Regions from separate parts of the Homo sapiens genome. Here region 1 is linked to region 2. Evidence: fine-mapped expression QTL. A gene starts in region 2. The other region holds a variant in brackets. All regions are shown on one strand. Distances are between the middles of the regions.

Region 1 (11,001 bases), 570 kb after region 2:
TCCCCCAAAATAAAATATATAAAAATAACAATGCAGCAATAATAATAATAACTTCCTTGTGACACTCTGCAATTCCAAAAGTCCAATCATGCGTGCTATATCAGTTGTCCTGTAAATGGCATCTCAAAGTTGGCCTCAGAATCCATGGGAGGTTTATGAGACCAAGCATGGATTAAGTCCTGCCCAAACTGAAGGGTAGGCTGGCAGGGTCTTTTTTTTTTTCTTTCTTTCTTTCTTTTTATTTTTTTTCAGACGGATTCTTGATCTGTCGTCCAGGCTGGAGTGCAGTGGCACAATCTTGGCTCACTGCAAGCTCCACCTCCCGGGTTCACGCCATTCTCCTGCCTCAGCCTCCCCAGTAGCTGGGACTACAGGCGCCCGCCACCATGCCCAGCTAATTTTTTATATTTTTAGTAGACACAGGGTTTCATTGTGTTAGCCAGGATGGTCTTGATCTCCTGACCTCGTGATCTGCCCTCCTCGGCCTCCCAAAGTGCTGGGATTACACGCGTGAGCCGAAATGCTAGCCAATTTTGGAGGGTCAGGGTAAGCCCTTTTAAAGGAAAGCGATGCCTCCTCTATTCCCCAGTCCTGTTGCCTCTCCTTGGGCAGGAGTTGGCTCTCAGCAAAGGGCTCTAGAGCTAGGGCCAGCACTGGGTTCCATGGTTCTCCTTGGCCAGAGTCACAGATGGACAAGATCCAGTAAGAGTCATTGAATCAAGGAATGGTGGAACTGTAAGGAGTTTAGGAGACCTCTGAGCCTTAGTTATCATCTGTCAAATAGGGCTAGCATCACACCTGACTTTGGGGTTGCTACGAAGTAGAGATACTATGGACTGGGATGGTGCTGGGGCAGGTGCTCTATGGACACTATGGATGTAAGGCAGTGTCAAGGCTGTTGGTCCCCACTTCCCCCAAGTGAGATCTAGATGAAACCTGTGACTCTAATCACCGAGTCCATGGCACCTTCTCTGGAGACTGTGACTGGGTCTTTAACTACATGCTTTCCAGAGGTGCCAGAGTGCTCTAAGCTTCTTCTCAATCTATGTCCCAGGGAACTGAAGATCATACCCAAAGGCATGCCCTGAGCCAACTCAGATGCAGAGAAACTTCATCCATCCTCTTAGCCAACAATGTGTGATCTTATGCTTAGGGTTAGGTTAAGTGCTGTGCTGGAGATAGAGACAGATTGGTCATATTCCCTGCCCGCATGAAGCTCACAGTTTGCTTGGGGAGACAGACAAGATTACAGGTGATCCCAAAGCAGAGTGATACAAAACCAATCAGAGAAGGAAAGGAAATAGCCTGCTGGAGCAATCAGGGAGGGCTTCAGTTGAATAGGAATTCCCTGAGTGGCAAAAGTGGGGAAAGGCAGGAGCTGCCTGTGCATAGGCAGGAGCATGTGAACAGGAGGTTATGTGAGGAGGCAGGGCAAGAAATGAGACCAGAAAAGCAGGCAAGGGTTAGCTGGCGTAGGGCCATGATGAGACTTGCTAAGCAGCCTAGGCTTTATCAGGGAGGCAACTGCAGCCATTGACTAGAGTTTTAGGGAGCACCCAGTATATGCCAGGCTACAGCATGAGGCATATTTGATATGGCTGTTTTGCTACCCAAGTGGCTGCATCAAAGTGTGAAAGACACTGTTTTCCATTACCAAGTCACGTGACTATCAGGCATGCTCCACTAATCCTCATCTCTTTCCTGGTCCCTCACTCTCTCTGGTCTCTCCTATCTTTTCTCAAGTCTCTTCATATATATATATATATATATATATATATATATGAAGAGACTTGAGTCTTGAGTACTATATATATATATATATATATATATATGAGTTTTGTGTTTTTAGTAAAGACGAGTTTCACCAAGTTGGCCAGGCTAGTCTCGAACTCCCAACCTCAGGTGATCTGCCCACCTCAGCCTCCCAAAGTGGTGGGATTACAGGCTTGAGCCACCAGCCTCTTACCATCTTTTATTGCATCCTGAAGCCTCCTGTATCCTTCAGGCCCAAGGATGGAATGATGCTCTGAGATGGCTATCATACCTATTATTTGATAACAACAAAGAACAAAATGTTAAATGATTTGTTTTATAAGCCGCATCAAAAATCCTTCCTGGAGATGGCTCCATAAAAATCTCTAAGTCTGTTGCAGTGAGCTGAGATCGCGCCACTGCACTCCAGCCTGGGTGACACAGCAACACTCCGTCTCAAAACAGAACAAAACAAACCTCTAAGTGTCACGAAACCATTCTAGGCATGAAGCCAGGCACTGCAGAGACAAAGAGGAATGAGTGTGGTTCCTCTCAGGTAGCTTCCACTTAATGAGGGGGATGGACAAGGAAACCACTGATTTTATCCAGTGTTGTAGGAGTTTAATAAAGGTAGCAGAGGGAGACTGGTTTGTGGGGAGCCACAGGAAGTAAGAGAACCGTGCCCAGCCTAGGGAGTAGGGGCATTTTGAGAAGCATCTTAGGTCAGGTTTCCTGGAGACAGACTCTGAGATGGAGATTTGTATGGGGGAAGTTTACAGGAAATGGTTCTGGGAAGTCATGCCCATAGGGAGATGAGGGAAGCGCCCTGGCCCCGGAGAGGTTTAATTGCTAAGCAGTTGCACCGGAGGCCTCAGCCAGTCTCACAGGGAGTCCTGGAGCTGGGAAGGACAGAGTTGTCCAGAACTGAGGCAAAGGGCTGGGCCTATACTCTATACCAACCAGTCACTGGATGTGGGTGCCCCAGGGATGGGGCATAACCATGAGGGAGGCAGCCAGTGCTCCTGCTCCCAGCAGCTGGGAATGAGCACCTTGGTCCTGAGAGGAGATCTGGGTAGCACACTACAGTATCCACTACAGAGGGCCTCCCAGAGGGCAAGGCCTACACCCAGACTTGAAGAAGGAGCAAGACTGCTTCTGATGAAGTTGTTGTTCATGGCGGTGGTGGTGGTAGTGGGAACAGCATATGCAAGGCTCAGAGGCCTTATTTTTTGGGAAAAGAGCAAGTAATTTAATGTGGCTCAAGGCCAGAGCTCAGAGGAGGGCAAAAGAAGGGGCTGGGTAAGTAAACAGGGGGCAAAACCCCTGAAGGGCCCCATTTGACAAAACCAGGTTCAGAATCTCGAACTTTGTCACACCGTGATGAGGAGCCACAGAAGGGATATGATCTGATATGTCCTCTAGACTCAGTCTGGCCGTGCATGAAGGCAGCAAGACAGATGGAGGGGAGGATCATTAGGCAGGTTTTGCAGTAAGTCCTGAACTTACTATAAGATTGACAATATGGTGGAAAGAAGTAGAGGATTAGGAAACATTTAGGGGGTAGAACTGATCCAATTAGTGACTAATTAGATATAGGAGTGTCTCTTCTAACTCTGCATGTATTAACTCATTTATGGTTCACAACAACTCATGAGGTGGGCCTATTATCTTCATTTTGCAGATGAGGAAACTGAGGCTCAGAGAAGTTAAGTGACATGCTATGGTCACACAACCAGTAAATGGTAGAGCCTGGATCTAAACCCAGACATTCTTGCTTCGCAATTTTCTGTGGGAGGAGGGGCATTTTGGGAAGCTTCTTTAGGTCAAGTTTCTAGGAGACGAACATCATCTGTCAATCAGATGGATGATGGCACTGTTTTAAGGAGTTCAAGGACACAGGAAGAGACCTGGCTGGGGAGGACTATGGTGAATGATGACATTTGCTGCGATCGCTGTAAGTCACCTGAATAGAGATGTTCAAAGGGCAGGTGGTGACATGGGTCTAAGTCAGCAGAGCACTGGCCAGAGTGAGAGATTAGGGGCCATAGCCTTTAGGTGACAAATGAAGCTGAACTCACTCAGGGAGAAGGCTTGGATTGGGAAGAGAACACAGGTTGGAAATAAGAAGAATGTGGATAGTTACGAGAAAGACAAAGGAAGAAACATCTGTCTAGGAAACCAAGAGGGACCAGCCAGAGATTTTGGAGGAAACTCGGAAGAGTTGTCATGGAAGCCAGAGGAGGAGAATGCTTTCAGAAGGTGTGAAGTGTCAGAGGCTGCAGGGGCGTCCTCTGATAAGGACTAAAAACTGCTCCATTTACTGAGGCAGAGACTGGGCTGCCCCAAACACCCACCATCCTGGAGAAAATGGAAGACTGAAGCACAGGATCTAAACGGCAGCTTCCTCACTCTCTTGGTAGGAGTAGAAGTGGAAAGCATTCAAACGAAATCTCTTCTTGGAGATTGATTGGAGCAAACACCCCGTTTATCATTTCCTCCGGGATTTCACTAGCACCTCTCTGCTGAGATAGGAATCTGAGACTTGTCATCCAAAGAGGGGAGACAGATCGTGACAGCCCATCCTCTGAAACCTGTCTGCTGCCTTCACACCTGGAGAACCCCCGGAGGCAGGGGGCGCCAGTGGGTGGGCGCGGGAGTGGCCCCCACCGTGACTGCTCCCCTCAGCTCCTGCAGGCAAACACCTGGAGCCCTCCTAGCAGGCCCAGGGTTGTCCTGGGACAGAGCCCCACATCTGAAGCAGGGGTGTGTGACTGCACCATATCCAGTTCTGATGCTATGCCCTGCTCCTCCTGCAAATACCCATGTCACATGCACACACGCACACACATAGGCATACACATGCACACACAGCCTGGCTGCTGTAAGCCATCACTCTCTGTGCTGGGGAGGCCCCTGGAGTAGAGGAAAGTGTACTGGGTTGGAGCTACCTCTCACACTTCATACCAGCCAAGTGACCTTATGCCAGTTACTTCACCGCTTTGCATCTTTGTTTCCTCATTTGATAAAACAAGGTTCCATTTTTTTTTTGGAGTGCTTGATATGCAATGACTATAGTAATAACAGTACTTATTAAGTGCCAGGGACTATGCAAAATCCTTTACACACATTTTCTCACCTTACCCTCTCCATAACTCTGTAAGGTAGGTTATGTTATTATTGCCATCTTATATAGAGGGAAACTAAGTCTGTAGAGGGCAAGTAATTTTGCTGAAAACCTCATGGCTTGTAAATGGCAGAGCTGAGATTTGAACCCAGGCAGTTGGATCCTGAGTTCTTAGCCCTTTCTTTCCCTCTGATTTTTTCTTTCCAATCCCGTCCTCACATGCAGTCAGAGGCATCTGCTTGTATTACCTATGTCTGCCTATGTTACTCCCCAGCCTAAAGCAAGCATTGGCTTTTTTTAGCTGTATATTAAAAGCCAAATGCCTTCACTGGACCTTCGAGGACTCACTTGTAATCCTCCCTCAAACGGGCCTCAGACCCTAGCCCCTGGCCAGCTGTGCTGTTTAGCAAACATGCTGTGTGTGTTCACATCCAGGACAAAGGTTGGGGGTCCTGGAGGCCAGGGCCCAAATTGTCTCATCTCTGAGCACCTCCTCCAACTCCTACATCTCCTCTTCTACTCCTGCTCCTTCCCCTATCCTAATTTGTAATGAATGTTTGTGCAATAAAAAGCTAACCATAGAAATAACAATAGCAGTGGGAATACCAGGAAAAGTTAAACAGGGCAGATCACAAGCCCCGACTGAGGGCCAGCTATGTGTCTGACTTTGTGCTTGGCCCTACGGGGCAACAGCAAACTAAGGCATCAGTCTCTATTCTTAAGGAGATGACTGTCTACATGACACGCAGGACACAAGGAGATGCTGACAAGCGCAGCCTTGATGCTAGCTGGGGGTTGTAGCCAAACAAGAAAGCAAGGAGAAATCAGGGCAGACTTCCTGGGGGAGATGGCATTGGCACTGAGACTTAGAGGGCTGGGATAGGAGAGGGCATTCTGAGACGGGAGAGAGGTGCACATTAAAGTGCTTCAGTCTCCCCTAGGTATCCCCTCACCCACACCCCATGTGCCTGGCAGCCATGGCTCCATATCCCCCCACCAACTCTGCCAACCCTAGCAGTCTCGCCTCCCACCACTCCAGCAGGTGAG[C/G]CTTCCTTCAGTTTCCTCATCCTGTCTTGGTCCCCCTGATGGCAGTTCCCTTGACTGGCTAGCTCCCAGTGATGCTTCCGTCTCATCTTAAACACCACTTCCCCTGGCACTAGGTTGTCTGGGCACCCTCCTTGCTGTTTTCGCTGCATCTTCTGCTTTTCCCAGCATGACACTTGCCAGCCTCGCTGGTGATGGCTTAGTTCATTGGCCCCACCAGTTGGTGAACATGGGGAGACCAGGATCTGTGTTTATCCTACCACTGTCTCCCCTGGCACCTGTACACAGTAAGTGCTCCATAAATGTCTGCAGAATTAATGACGAAGTGCTTAATAAATGCTTCTAGGCTTCTTCTTATCACTGTCTTGAACACCCTGGTCAACATGTCCTCCTCTGCCATTGTCCCTTGCCCTGGTCTTCTGGGTCCTGGTTCCAACTCCAGTCCAAGAGTGAAGAGTTGTGCCCGGGCAGGCCCCAGGGATGCTAGTGCTGTCTTGAGAACAGCGCTGTGAAAGCCACAATGGGCCTGATCTGGAGCGCTTGTCCCTGCTAATTATTACGGACAAGCCTCCTTATTGAACCTCGTCCTCTTATTGACATTCGGATGCATGAGCCGAGGCTGTTGTTTTAAACGCGCTCATTAGCCACACAAATCAGTCCTGTTGACAGAGCGCCTTTGAATTAAGCATCTCGCCATAGTCATTGGACAAGGAGCAATTTATAATGCCATTAGCAACGCTTTCGAAGGTTACAGGCATCAAAAATTGTTCAGCCGTAATTATTCTTAATGGATACAAGGAATAAACTGACGCAGGACAGCTTTTTCATTAGCCTTCAATCAAGGCTGATGGCTTTGAGAAATGTACAGTAAGTGCGTTTTGGGGAGAAATAATGATGTTACAGCACCTTTCCCAGGAAAATGCTCTGGGTACACAGCTTAACTTTTAATGGCCTTAATTTGACATAATTAAAAAAAATTTGAATTTGTTTTTGAAGATCTTGAAATAAATTATTTGGTTCCCATTTTTAACCCTTTGGGGAACTGGTGCTAAATAGCAGTCAGGGAGTGAGGAGGCCAGTCTCTGCAAATGAAGGTACTATTTAAGGAGTTGGGGTTTGCAGGGCAGTGGTCACCAGAAAGCCCACCTGGACTGCAAGCATGAGAGCTATGCCTCCACCCCAGGATTTCCAAGTGACCTTGGGAGAAAGGATTGGCTTTCTGAGTAGCCAGGCCCAGAGGGTTTATTTCCGTGGAGTTATTTGCACCATCTAGGAAGTGGGGCCCATATGAGGAGGGAGAAGGGAATCCTATGCCCTGAGATAGGGTGGGCTACAGACATGCAGAACTGGGAATAAACCCTGGTCCTGAGCTGTGGGACCCCAGGCAAGTGACTGCATCTCTCTGAGCCTCAGTTTCTTCATCTGTGAAATGAGGATGACAATTCCTACATCTTGGGGCCATGGTGGGGGTTTGATGAGATAAACGATATGAAAGCCACTGGCCGGTGCCTGGCACACAGTAGGTGCTCAATGAATGTTCATTCCTGAGGTCAGGGACTTGATCCACCTCACCATGGTAGTTCCCATTGACCAAGGCTAGGGCACCCAAAATGCTGGAAATCTAATAATGTGGGGTCAATTATGTTTTCTAGAACTTGTCTCAGGGAGGACACTGGATATGGCTGAACAGAAGCTGCTTGGGAGTGAGGGGCAGGGATAAGGTATCTCCTTGCACTGCCATTCCCCCTGCCTGAGACCAAAGGAAAAATAGGTGCCTTCTAAACTGCCCTCTAAGGAGAGTGGGTTAGCTGAATCCAGGGCTTTTGCTTTGCTAAATGAGGGCATGCAAGTTTGGGGTGGAGCATAATTGCTGGGATAATGAACATGGCACAAATTAGGAGAGGCCACACATCTGCTTTCTGTAACTTTCATCAGGCAGGACTCAATTTATCCCCAAAATAAATGATGAACAAATCCTTTAAGTCTATCAGATTGAAGTTGGGTCAAAATATAACCTGCCTGGAGCACTCATGTGTCTGGTCTAGGCCTGATAGTACCAAGAAGGTACCCACACAGAATTCACACTAAGTCACATTGAGTGACTAGCATCCAGTAGGCTTTAACAGTGCCTCCTGGGGCTTGTTGGCAGTGGCAGACACAGTGGAGCAGCCTGGTGCCAGGCCAACAGACCTGGCATCTAGCTTTGTCCCTGCCACTGCCCACCATGTGACCTTGGACACAATGCCTCTTTCCTCTGCATCTCAGATTCCTTATCTGGAAACGACAGAGCAGCTGGAAGTCACTGCTTCAGACACCAGGAAAATTCAAACTATCAGGATGTATTCTCCCTCAAGCCTGCCTAAGAGCAGATGAAAGCCAAGTCAAAGGCTTAGGAGAGTTTTTTGGTGAAATACTGTGAATAAGAAACATTCTGTCCATTGGTTTGGTGCTTTCTGTGGCTTGGGAGATGTGGCCACTGTTGCACTCTAGTAGGTTGTGGGGCATCTGTGCTTAGCAGAACTTTATCTTGGGCTCTACTCATGAACAGGCTTGGGGCCAAACACTGAAACAGTGCCTGGGCAGATCTGGGTTCCACTCCAAGCTTGGTCAACTAATCTTTTGGGACTTCAGCTTCCTTATCTTTGCAACCTATGGAATTCAGACTTAACCTTGTTTATCTTTTCCTTCCTCCCTCTCCTCCTCTCCCTTTCCCTTCCCCTCCTTTTCCCTTCTTTCCCTCTACTCCTTTTCTCTCCCCTTCTTCCCCTCTCTTCTCCTCTCTTTTCCCTCCCTCTCTTTCCTTTGTCATTTTTCCCTCCTTCCCCCCTTTTTTTCTAGCTGCCAAACCCAATTTTCAAGAGTCATCTTACACAGGTGCCTAATATATGAAATAAAGATGGAGCTCTTCTGCTTGAAATGTGGTGGAGTTCCCAGAGTCTACCTCCGCAGCTTCCCTCTAAGGTTTCTCTACAGACCCACAAGGCTCCTCAGAGCATGGCTGACCCCTCATGAGATGGCTCTGTCCTTCCCTTGAGGTCTCATCTCCTGCTGTCTCCTCTTGCCCTCCTCCTCCCTAACACTGGCCAACCTGCCATTTCCCAACTGTGCTAAGTCCTGTCACTCTTCTCTGCCTTTGCTGGAGCTGTGCCCTCTTCCTGGGATGCTCTTGCCTTTTTCTGTGACTGGAAGACTCCAGCTAATCCCTTAAAGCTGACTTCTCAGGAAGCCTCACCTGAGAGCCCTATGCAGAACAAATCTCTCACCCATATTGGCCCCTGCAGGACTTTATTAACCAACTGGCAATAGATAGCTCAGAGGGTATTTTAGCTAATGAGTCACATGTCTTTCTTCTTGGACAAACTACAAATGCCTTATGGGCAACTGATTGAGCTTTATGCCCCAGGACTTGGCATTAACAGCACCTGCTGGGAGGTGCCCACACAACATAGGACCTGGTGCACCTCGGAAGCCCTGCCATTCTGGGATCTGGCACACAGTCGGTGTCTACCTAGCATAGGTGCTGGTGTATGCAGGTGACACCCAGCCTAGGGCATGGCACAGAAGAGGAACTCATGGGACTTGGCACACAGTGGGAGCTTGCCCAGAGCAGGTTCTGGCTCTTGGATGCTCAGGAAATGTTTGCTGAAAGGAAATTCAGTGGAATGGAAGCCCAGTTCTGGGAGAGCAGCTGGCTTCTCCCCAGTCAGAGTAGGCGGTATTTTCCCTCCCTTCACCCCTGGTGGAAAAAGCAAATGTGATCTCCTCTCAAAGCCAGGAGCAGACAGGGCTGCAGGTTGGGGGTGATGGGAGAGGTCTCTGAGGTAATGAGCAGATACTGTTTCCTTATCACCATCGGCATGTTCTCAAGCTATTACTCCCGTCACCCTCCATTTGGACTTTTTCTGATAAACACCAATATCTGCAAATTCTTGAGGCTGACTGCCTCCCCAACCCAGGGGCTGCTCTGCTGGAACTCCAGATGTGTGATAAGGCAGGGAAATACATTTTCAGTCCACTAAGTCATCACATTTTCTGACAAGGATGCTCAGGCGCGTGTAGATCTCTGATGACTAATATTGCCTTCACTCAGCAGAGGGCTTCAGAAACCATCCAAACCATCACCAGGCTGTCAGGTGTCAGCTCTTCCCCTGGCTTTGCATATTGAGAGGCCCTCTGAGGAGCTCGAAGTCCTGATACAGCAAGGCGGGGGGCTCCGTGTGGAGGAAGAGGGCTGGCCAGCGGTCAACAGTCCTTGCGCCCGGCCTGCTCTCTCTCCTTGGGTGCCCTTGGTTGCCCTATGAACCTCTCTGGGCCTCAACTTCCCCACCTGTCCAAGGGGGAGAGATGGATTCCATGATCTCTAGGGGACTTTCCAGGGCTGAAAGTCTGATTTTCTTACTTTTCCACCATTAGGAGCACAGGAGGGTAGAATCCCATGAAATGTAAGGGAAGGCTTAGAATTCTGGGGAAAATGTAAGAGTAGTAGCTGTATTCATAATAACAATAATAGTAACTACCCCTTCCCATAAGTTACTTCATCTCTTTAGAGCTCTAGAATTAGGCAGACCTGGATTCAAAGCCCTATTGTGTCCCCCACTAGCTGTGTGATGTTGGGCAAGTTATCTAACTTCTATGAGCTTCAGTTTCCTCCCATGAAATAGGCAGAAGCCCTGCGATTCGGGGATCTGGCAATGTAGACAGTTGGTGTCTACGTAGCATAGGTGCTGGTATATGGGGTGACACCCAGCCTAGGGCATGGCACGAAGGAAGCACTCATGGGGCTTGGCGCATAGTGGGAGCTTGCCCAGTGCAGGGCCTGGCTCTTGCGTGCTCAGGAAATGTTTGCTGAATGGAATTTCAGTGGAATGGAAGTTAAGTTAGAACACTGGGAGCAGCAATACATGTTGCCTTTTTTTTTTTTTTTTTAGACAGAATCTTGCTCTGTTGCCCAGGCTGGAGCGCAGTGGCATGATTACAGCTCACTGCAGCCTTGGCTTCCCCAGGCTCAGGCGATCCTCCCACCTTAGCCTCCCAGGAAGCTGGGACTATAGGTGCACACCACCACACCAGCTAATTTTTTG
Region 2 (11,001 bases):
TCTGCCTAGTAACTTTCTCTCCCCAAATAGCCACATAGCTCTTTCCCTTACCCTCTTCAGATCTCTGCTCAAATATCACTTTCTCATGAAGCCTGCTCTGACCACCCTATTTTAAATCACAACTCCACCCTCACTCCTCACTTTCCCTGCTTTATTTTTCTCCATAACACTTATCGCCATTCAGCATTCTACTTGCCTTTTTCAATGCCTGTCTCTTTGCACCAAGAACAGTGCCTGACAGGTAGTAGCTACTCGATAAATTATTAGAGGAAGGATTATACAAAGGAATGCAGGAAGAATCCAAGTTCAGGAACCAAAGAGAACTGACTCAAACTACTTAGTTTTCCAATCTTGTGAAAACTGAAATTTGAAAGACTTAGAACAGCTCTGGCTGTGACCTGAAATGTGTGCAAAGGATACGACTTTCGATAATGTCTCTCAATATCCTGCAACCATTCCAACATGTCAGCCACAGAGGGGCTCACTGCTGAAGGCTGCAGGACAGCATCAATGCCAACTGTGTCTGCGTGTTGCTCATAGATCTGAAACACTCGCTCCACATGGCTGCTGACCATGTCTCGCACCTTGAGGAGGATGGCTCTGCAAGAAAGAGTCTGACATTAGGCAATATCATGAGACATGTATAAAGGAAGGTTTCTCAATTTTGGCACTACTGATATTTTGGACTACATGATTCTCTGTTGTGAAGGGCTGCCCTGTACATTGTAGGACGTGTAGGAGCATGCCTGGCCCCTACCCACTAAATGACAGGTGTAAACTATACCTATACCCTCCATAAGCCATAACAACCAATAATGCCTCTAGATGATGCCAAATGTCCCCTCATAGAAAAACCATCTCCAATTGAGACCACTGGTCTAAGGAGATTAGTGACAGTGTCTTGGAGGTACGGGTGGCTCAAGAATCAAGAAAGGGGCTGGGTGCAGAGGCTGTTGCCTGTAATCCCAGCTTTGGGAGGCTGAGCGGGGTGGATCACCTGAGGTCAGGAGTTTGAGACCAGCCAATGTCCCAAAACCCCGTCTCTACTAAATATACAAAAATTAGCCAGGTGTGGTGGTGCACACCTGTAGACCCAGCTACTCGGGAGGCACGAGAATCACTTGAACCCAGAGGCAGAGGTTGCAGTGAGCCAAGTTCGCGTCACTGCACTTCAACCTGGGTGACAGAGCGAGACTCCGTCTCAAAAGTGTGTGTGTGTGTGTGTGTGTGTGTGTGTGTGTGTGTGTGTGTGTGTGTGTATAGTTTTTGTTTTTGTTTTTTGTTTTTTTATTGAGATGGAGTTTCGTTCTTGTCGCCCAGGCTGGAGTGCAATGGTGCGATCTTGGCTCACCACAACCTCTGGCTCCCGGGTTCAAGTGATTCTCCTGCCTCAGCCTCCTGAGTAGCTGGGATTACAGGCATGCGCCACCACACCCGGCTAATTTTGTATTTTTTTTTCAGTAGAGACGGGGTTTCTCCATGTTGGTCAGGCTGGTCTCGAACTCCCGACCTCAGGTGATCCACCTACCTCGGCCTCCCAAAGTGTTAGGATTACAGGCATGAGCCACCGTGCCCAGCTAATATATATTTTTTTTTAATTAAAACATTTAAAAAAAAAAACAGGTGCAGTGGCATGCCTGTAATCCCAGTAGTTTGGGAGGGCAAGGCCAGAGGACAGCTTGAAGCCAGGAATTTGAGACCAGCCTGGGCAATATGGCAAGACTATCTCCACAAAAAATTTTAAAAATTAGCTAGGTATGGTGGCATGCTCTTGGAATCCCAGCTACTCAGGAGGCTGGCAGGAGGAGTTAGAGGCTACAGTAAGCTATGATCATACCGCTGCACTTCAGCCTGGGCAACAGGGTGAGACTGTCTCTAAAAATAAAATAAAAATAAATAAAAGACAAAATATTAAGTAAAGCACTCATAGGTACTCACAGCACTCCTGGGTTCAAATGATCCTCTTGTCCTTAGCCTCTCAAAGTGCTGGGATTACAGGAGTGAGGCACCGTACCTGGCCTCATCTTTTTTTTGTTTTGCTTTCCTTTTCATGGAGAATGGGATCTCACTATGTTGCCCAGGCTGGTCTCAAACTTCTAGGCTCAAGCGATCCTCCTGCCTCAGCCTCCCTAAGTGCTGGGATTACAGGCTGAGCTGCCATACCCAGCTGATCTCATCTCTTACCAGGCCTCTGCTCCTGTCATACTTTTCTCTCTTTTTTTGAGACAGAGTCTTGCTCTGTCACCCAGGCTGGAGTGCAGTGGGACAGTCTTGGCTCACTGCAACCTCTGCCTCCCAGGTCCAAGAGATTCTCCTGCCTCAGCCTCCCCTTTAGCTGGGACTACAGGTGTGTGCCACGACAGCCAGTTAACTTTTTTTATTTTTAGTAGAGATGGTGTTTCACCATGTTGGCCAGGCTGGTCTCGAACTCCTGACCTCAAGTGATCTGCCTCCCAAAGTGCTGGGATTACAGCCATAAGCCACCGTGCCGGGCCAGTCATACTATTCTCTATGCACACTACTCATACCCACGTCTTGACTCTGTTTACATCTTTTCAACCATTAGGTTTTTAATATCACTTCCTCCCCAGAAACTTCCCCACTCCACACAAGCCGTACTTATCAATATCTTAGGACATCCCACAATTTAATTCACTGATTGTTTATTTCTTCTACTCAACTAAGAACAGGAACTAAATCTGGTTCATTTTTATATTCTTGGCACCTTGTGCTTGGCATCCCACAAGGTGCCTAATGAACGTATTTTGTACAAATAAATAAAAGGAAAGTCCTCATCTGTGACAGTTTCCTATTAGTCTATGACAGACTCTATATACTGGAACTTTCTTTTGTTCCAGTTCAAGGAAAGGCCACACATGCCCTGTCTCCCCTCTGTCCTCAATAACCTGTAACTCTCAGCCTGGGCAACATAGTGAGACCCTATCTCTACAAAAAATTTTAAAATTAGCTGGGCATGGAAGTGCACGCTTGTTGTCCCAGGTACTTGGGGGGCTGAGGTGGGAGGATCGCTTGAACCAGGGAAATCGAGGCTACAATGAGCTGTGATTGTGCCACTGCACTCCAGCCTGAGTGACAGAGCAAGACCCTGTCTCAAAAAAAAAAAAAAAAAAAAATCTGTAACGCAGGCACTGGGTCTGACAACAAGCATATCAGAACTTGGAGACGTGCTACTCCTGGGCACAGAGACACCAATCTACAGCAGAACAAAGTGGTGATTAAGAGCTCTAGCCTTTGTGTCAGGCACACTTGAGTTAGAATCCCAGCTCTACCCTTTTCTAGCTGCGTCACCATGGGCAATCTGCTTAAGCTTCAGTTTCCTACCTGCATAGAATTAAGTGCAGTTAAGTCACAGATATGTTGAAGAGACTTTATAACGTAATATACATAAACCCCTTAGCTCTAGCACCTACTAAGTTTACACAGCTCCTCACTGCCTTTTACCAAAGAAAACTATAGGGCAGAGCTAATAGGCTTTCTCCGCTCCTTTTCTCTTCTTCTTTTGTGACTTCTACTAAGCCCACCACTGCCATGCCTAGTCTCTGACAAAGAAAATGCCAGAAAATGGCTTTCTGACCGAGGTCCCACTGCCCCAGATGAAGTAAGGAAGGTTGAGATACCTCCACATGCCACGCTTTCAAGGAGAAAAACACCTTCTGGACTGACACTAGCTACATATAAAACACCTCGTTTTAAAATCCTTCCACCAAGAAACAGCACTAGGGAGCTGCTTACAGCCTTTCCCCTAGCTTGTCCAGGACGATGTCACCAGCCACCAGCTGCTTACGCCTCAGCCGCTCTTTTAAATCTGGGAAGGCCCGAAGCGCCGGCACATCCTCAAACCGCAGGTTCTGTGCGGCCTGCAGCTGTTCCGCCAGGTTGCTGAGGGAGGACAGGAGGGGCTGGCAGTCCCGCAGGGCACTCTGCCACAGGCCCTGCTGCTCCTCCACCACGGGGAAGCACTTCTTCAGCGCCTCCTGCACGGCAAGCAGAGGCCGGTCTTGAGTCATCTTCTGCTGAAAAAGATAAAAACAGAAAATAACCACGTTGGGGTGCCAAGTCAGTCGGGGAGGCACTGGGTCGAGGGTGGGCGTCATCTCTGTTATCGTGTTCAGACAGGAGTTGTCTCACCTCCAGAAGCAGGGTTTTTTTTTTGTTTTTTTTTCGAGACGGAGTCTCACTGTCGCCCAGGCTGGAGTGCAGTGGCGCTATCTCGGCTCACTGCAACCTCCGCATCCCGGGTTCAAGCAATTCTCCTGCCTCAGCCTCCCGAGTAGCTGGGAATACAGGTGCCCGCCAACACGCCTGGCTAATTTTTGTATTTTTAGTAGACGGGGTTCCTGACCTCAGGTGATCCGCCCGCCTCGGTCTTCCAAAGTGCTGGGATTACAGGCGTGAGCCACCGCGCCCGGCCTGCCTCAGCTTTCTGAAGGAGACCCTGGTTTCCCCTCGGGAAGGGTAACCTGGATAGGGCAGTCTCCTGCTTCAGAGGATTCCTGGCGTCCAAGCGCCGTCTCTTCTCTGACATACAGTCCTGTCTCCCCTGCCCGAGGCTGCCGGTCGCCTTCCTGAAAAAGCGGAAAAACTTAAAAGTCCAGACAGCCAAAGCGTGAGAACCCTCCAGGGACTGCACCACGCGCCCACAGTCTCTCTGCGCATGCTCACACGCGACCTCCCCACAAAGCTACTCCGCGGGCCTGCCTGGCTACTGAGTCGCGAAAATATATCGTAGTGCCGCAATGACTTCTGGGTACTGTAGTCCAACATGTGGACTGGCCACTCGGCTTGAAGCTTCCTTGGGATTGGATGTTGGGACCGTCCAAACACGGCGACTTCTCATTTGTCAGCCTGCGGCAGTTTAAATTGGGTGGCGGTGGTGGCATGTCCTGTTAGCTGTGGAGTCTTTTCCTCTTATCTTGCGCCTCCGGTTGTGCCTTAATGACACTTTTGACATTGTGTATCACAACCAACTGGCAAAAACTAGTAAATCACGGGCTCCTGACGTGGCAGCTCTGGCTAAAATGCAGGTGGACGTCCTAGGTGCCCAGGGAGTTCGGGCTCACTGGGGAGTAGGGTGAAGGAAACCCTGAAACCGAGAGGCTGGAAGCCCGACTTGCGCAGCATAAAAACACCTGCAGGGGGAAAGCCTACATGAGGTACGGGTTGTCATCCCGTCTCATCTTGGCCATCTGACTGATGGAGATCCTCAGGCACCCAGCAGACTGGGGTGTCACCCCCACTACCCACTGCCCAGGGCTGACCTCGGGCGGAAGAGCGACATTCAAATATTTGTTGCATATGGAGCAACAGACCAGGGTGGAAGAGAGAGAAAGGACTTTCCAGGAAGGTCCAGGCTTGCCAGGACTTCTATGCTTGGACTGCTCTGTCCCCAAGCTCGCTGGTGCCCATCAGGAGCCTGCTTGGCACCTTTGCTTATTTCTTCGATTGTTCCTCAACTCAGAGGGGGAGAGGCAAGATTATCACTCCCATAGCCTATAACATGCACGCTTAAACACAACCCCTCTGACATGGCTTCAGACCGCATCCACAGGTGAAAAGCACCAAATCCAAACAATCAGGCCACAAACCCGTCAAGAGCTCGCCGGTCTGGCCGTCCAGTCGCCGCCCGCCTTGAGACTCAGCCTGAGCTACAGCTTCGAAACTAGCCTCTAGCCTTCTGGGTCTCAGCACAACTCTTGAGCAATCCAACCCTGTGGCCGTGGGCAGATACCAAGATGCACAGTTAGCACCTCCGACAGGACCGCGGCTCGGCGGGGCTCGCCGTCTACACGCCCATTCCCAGGCCCACGGCCACGACACCCAGAGCTGCCTCCTGCCCTGGGCTCCCTGGAGCCTGGTGGCCGCGGCTCATGCTGCAGTCACCGTGTGGCCAGCTGCCAAGCGCCACTACTTGCACCTGAAGTCGCAGCCCCGCGCTGCGCACCCAGTCGAGGCGCCAACACGCGAACTGGGCGGGAGTGGCCGGCCCGCGGGGGAGCGAGGAACGACAGGGTTCCCCCCACTCGCTGCCCAGACTGGCCGCGGGATAGCGCGCCCCCCCCAAAGCCTGCACCCCTGCCCTGCTCCTCTATCATTCCGTCCCCCTTGCTCTGTCAAACCCTGCCGGGGCTGCTCTGTCTCTGCCGACCCGCCACTTGCCCGAAGTTCGGCCTGAGGAGCTTGGGGCCCTGAGGAGCGCCGACGTAGGCAGCCAGCCAGTCAATCAGTCAGAGGGTCACGGCGGCCCCTCGGCTACTCAGTGGCAGCCAGGCCAGAAAGAAGCAGCCGCCAACCCTGGAGCAGAATCCTACAGCCGACCTGACCTAGTAGGCCCCCAGCCCTCCAGAGCTTGGGGTATTGCAGAGCCGCCACAAGGCCTGCCGGGAGTAGTAGTTTGTATAGTTCGCAGCCGGCCAGGGCGGAGCCGGGTGGGTTGGTGGGGAGGGCGGGGAAACAAGCCTGGACCACAACTCCCAGGAGTACCCGCGACGGCGGCGGCCTCGCTGTCGCACTCAGGCTATAGGGGGCGCATTGGGCGGAAGACCCTGGGCCGGCAGGAACTTGCTTGTGATTGGATGTTGTGGGACGGCGGCTTCTCATTCGTCAGCCTGTGACTGTGGAGTTTGAATTGGGTGGCGGTTGACTGTAGAGCCGCTCTCTCTCACTGGCACAGCGAGGTTTTGCTCAGCCCTTGTCTCGGGACCGCAGGTACGTGCCTGGCGACTTCTTCGGGTGGTCCCCGTCCGCCCTCCTCGTCCCTACCCAGTTTCTTGCTTCCCTGCCCCATCTCCGCCGCTCCCCGCAGCCTCCGCCGAGCGCCATGGCTCCTAGGAAGGGCAGTAGTCGGGTGGCCAAGACCAACTCCTTACGGAGGCGGAAGCTCGCCTCCTTTCTGAAAGACTTCGACCGTGAAGGTAAGGGGCCAGGCCGTCGCGGCCTCCTGGGGCGGTCGCGGGATGCTGGCGGGTGGGGACACGAGCTGCACAGATTCGCCCGCCCGTGACCCGTGTCCTGTCGGCTCTGCCCTCCCGCAGTGGAAATACGAATCAAGCAAATTGAGTCAGACAGGCAGAACCTCCTCAAGGAGGTGGATAACCTCTACAACATCGAGATCCTGCGGCTCCCCAAGGCTCTGCGCGAGATGAACTGGCTTGACTACTTCGGTAAGAGCTGGAGAGCTTCCCTGGGCGGAGGCCAGGAGCCCCTTGGGGTTAGGTGACACCCTTCAGAAAGGGCTCGCTCAGATGTCACCTTTTAATGAGATCTGACATGACCACTTATGGAAAATTGCAGACCCTTTCACTCTCTGTCTCACTTCCCTACTTCATTTTTCTCTATGAAAAATGGGGGGGTGGTTGGGGGGCGGCGGGCGGGGCGGTCTCTGTCGGACAACTCAGCTCTGCTGTTTACAGGTCCAAAACAGCTGTAGTGAATGGGCATGGATGGGCTGTATTCCAATAAAATTTTAGTTATGGATACACTGAAATGTGAATTTCACATAATTTTCACACATCAGGAAATTTATTTAATTTTTTTTAAACAGAGTCTCACTCTGTCACCCAGGCTGGAGTGCAGTGCAGTGCAGTGGTGCGATCCCTGCTCACTGCAACCTCCACCTTCTGGGTTCAAGTGATTCTCCTGCCTCAGCCTCTGGAGTGGCTGGGATTACGGTCGCCTGCCACCATGCCCCGCTGATTTTTGTATTTTCAGTAGAGACGGGGTTTCACCATGTTGGCCAGGCTGGTCTCGAACTCCTGACCTCAAGTGATCCACCTACATAGGCCTCCCAAAGTGCTGGGATTACAGGAGTCAGCCACTGCGCCCGGCCAGAAAATAGTATTTTTAAAAATATATGTATATTTTACCCATTTAAAAATGAATGAATAAATGACATGGTTAGTTAACCAGAGCTCAGATAGAAGAATAACCCGAAGCAGCTCCTTCTGCAGCTTATGGAAATTGCTAACCTAAAAATGGGCGCATCAGGCTGGGCGTGGTGGCTCACGCCTGTAATCCCAGCACTTTGGGAGGCTGAGGCGGGCAGATGACCTGAGGTCAGGAGTTCGAGACCAGCCTGACCAACATGGAGAAACCCTGTCTCTACTAAAAATACAAAAAAGTTAGCCGGGCGTGGTGGCGCATACCTCTAATCCCAGCTACTCTGGAGGCTGAGGCAGGACAATCGCTTGAACCTGGGAGGCAGAGGTTGCGGTGAGCTGAGAGCACGCCATTGCACTCCAGCCTGGGCAACAAGAGTGAAACTCCGTCTCAAAAAAAAAGACACATCAGTTTTCCTGGCCAGAGAAAAATCCCAGCCTGTTTCTGCACTCCCTTATTAAATGTCCGGAGAAATGCAGGAGGCTGTACTTTTCTGCTGGGTTGCCCTTTTCTGTTTTCCTTATTATTAACTATCCAGCATGTAGTCTCCTTCCTGGATAGAAATGCATGGTCTGCTCACATATTAGACATTGAATGATCCTTTTGACTTGCCCTTTTATTTATTAAGCCATTCATTTGCTTATTTCTCCAAATACTGAGCATGTGTCAGTCACAGTGCTAGGTGCTAAAGATGCACTAGGGAATAAAACAGACATTGTCTCTGCCTTCAGGAACATACAGATTAGTAGAAAAGAGCTATTAGAAAAATCCACATACAATTATGTAATTAAAAGTATAGGTACTACAAAGGAGATAGAATAGAGTAGTGGTCAGTGAGCATATTGTGCTTTCTATGCCAGATGGGCATTGTACCAAGTGTTTTACATACATTAACTAATTTTTCTTCATAACTAATAATATCCCTATTTTTCAAAATGACAAGATTAAGGCACAGAGAAATTGGACACTTTGCTCAAGGCCTCATAAGCTAGTTAGTGGGATAGTCTGTTTGAACCCAGGTATTCTGGTTTCATAGCCTGAGATCTTAACTGTTTTACAAGATACTATGAGAGTTTCTAGCAGGAGGTTCTAACCTAACTTTTTATTCTACATGTAAATCTCACAAAGACCTTTTCATTCAACACGTTTACTGTACATCTATTGACTGCTAGATTTTTGCCAGAAGCAAAGGATGTCATCTCTGGAATTCAGTCCAAGGCAGGGATGGACATTTAAACAGCTTTGAGTAGTTATTGGGTATAATGAGGGTGAGCAACTAACTCTACACTTTGCAGCAAACTGCTGAGATAGAAAAATAAGCAGGCTGGGCACAGTGGCTCACCTGGAATTCCAGCACTTTGGGAGGCCAAGGCAGGTGGATTACTTGAGCCCAGGAATTTGAGACCAGCCTGGGCAACATAACAAGACCATATCTTTAAGCTTTAAAAAAAATAATTAAAAATAAATTTTTAAAAAAGAAAAATAAGCAGAGGGCAGGGCATAGGGTGGGGATTCATGCCTATAATCCTAGCACTTTGGGAGGCCAAGGCAGGAGTATCACTTGACCCCAGGAGTTCAAAACCAGCCTGGGCAACATAGCAGGAGACCACATCTCTACTTAAAAAAAAAAAAAAAAAAAAAAAAGACAACCTGGACAACTTGGCGAAACCCTATCTCTACAAAAAAACACAAAAATTAGCCGAATGTGGTGGCGCATGCCTGTAGTCCCAGCTACTTGGGAGGCCAAGGTGGGAGGATCAGTTGAGCCCAGGAGACAGCCAAGGAGGCGCCACTCCACTCCAGCTTGGGTGACAGAGCAAGACTCTGTCTCAAAAATAAATAAAATTTAAAATATATTTTTTAAAAAGAAAAATAAGCAGAATTTTTGGGGTGATGTTTGAGCTGAGTTTTGAAGGATGAGTTAGAAATTTGTTAAGTACGGAGGTGAATTTCAGGCAGAGGAAATACAAAGTACCATGGCAACAAGTCATGAGAGTCAGTGGCACATTTGGGATATAACTTGGAGAAAGAATAGATTAGATGGTGAAGGTCCTTGAAGGTTAGACCAAGGGCTGGACCAGTTTTAGAAAGATAAATGGTACTATTAGGCAAGATGATTTATTGTTAAAATGTAATAGTAACTACAACGTTCTTTTTAAAGCCCTTGGAGGAAACAAACAGGCCCTGGAAGAGGCGGCAACAGTAAGTGACCTTTCCTATTTTCCAGCCAGTGGTTACTTAAGTCTAGTCCAGTCCCCAGATCCAACTAATAGATGCTTACTGTGGAAGAGGTTTCATAAAGGGACATCATCTGTTTGTGTCAACTGAAAAATTAGAGTTGGACCAGACACTGTATACATGAGACCCAGATAGTTCTGAGCCCTACAGAAGGTGGCAGTTCTGTTTTTGACCAATTTCTTGCAGTCCTTTGTTCTGAACTCTACAGCGGAAGTAGAAAGCCTCAAGCCCAAGTTCCTTTAAGCGCCTGAGTCATTACACTATGCATTGGCCTGCTAGATGATAAAGGTGTTTCATCATGTCGTACTGTAGAAGCAGTGCTTTTGCTTGGGATGCTCAGTATTCCCCAACCCCTCTCATCTCCTTCCTCCCAGCATCAGTGCCAGGATTGAAGGCAGTAAGATGGGGATGCAAAATAGAGCATTTAAAGCTGCACTGTCCAGTGTAGTAGCCACTGGGCATATGTAGCTATTTCAGTTAATTACAATTAATAAAATTAAAGAATTCATTTCCTCAGACATACTAGCCACATTTTACATGTTCAATACCTACATATGACTAGTAGCTACTCCATCAGAGAGCACAGAAATAGAACATTGCTACTCTTGCAGAAAGTTTTATGAGACAGCATTGGGAACTAGTCCATACATGGGCTTCACAGAGTCCCTAGGCACTCTAAAATAATATACAAACAATGCGTGTGTATGCACGCATTTGTGTATCTTTCTGTTAGTTTATTGTAGCCTTGATCAGATTTACAAAGTAAACCCCAAAATTACATCTTTTGTTGAGTTGATCAGAATCATTTGGAATATCAGGGTTTGAAGGAGTCTGACCACCAAGGGCACATAGCAGATCTCCGCCAGC

Which allele goes with the higher level. Alleles are on the strand shown, and positions count from the first base shown. SD is a standard deviation of normalised expression in the study named.
For the expression in atrial appendage of the gene that starts at base 4,677 in region 2, C is the high allele of the variant in region 1 and G is the other (moderate effect, 0.66 SD a copy in GTEx).

Evidence for each region. PIP is the estimated chance that this variant, and not a neighbour inherited with it, causes the effect.
Region 1: its variant is fine-mapped to the expression of AIRIM in atrial appendage (GTEx, PIP above 0.99).

Annotation. Positions count from the first base shown.
Region 1 is chr1:38,251,871-38,262,871 of GRCh38, forward strand. No RefSeq gene overlaps it. Among named protein-coding and RNA genes, the nearest start is that of LINC01343, 43 kb to the left of the region's middle. RefSeq lists an enhancer at 10,643-11,001. The variant C/G (reference allele first, on the strand shown) is at 5,924.
Region 2 is chr1:37,685,853-37,696,853 of GRCh38, forward strand. AIRIM (AFG2 interacting ribosome maturation factor) reads right to left here and starts at 4,677. Exons shown (of 5, transcript NM_001350770.2): 1 at 4,150-4,677; 2 at 3,754-4,031; 3 at 421-600. The coding sequence starts at 4,028. CDCA8 (cell division cycle associated 8) reads left to right here and starts at 6,664. Exons shown (of 10, transcript NM_001256875.2): 1 at 6,664-6,932; 2 at 7,053-7,181; 3 at 10,058-10,098. The coding sequence starts at 6,839. RefSeq lists enhancers at 3,830-3,939, 4,010-4,069, 4,650-4,839, 5,405-5,915, 5,916-6,425 and 3 more and silencers at 5,718-5,777, 5,798-5,967.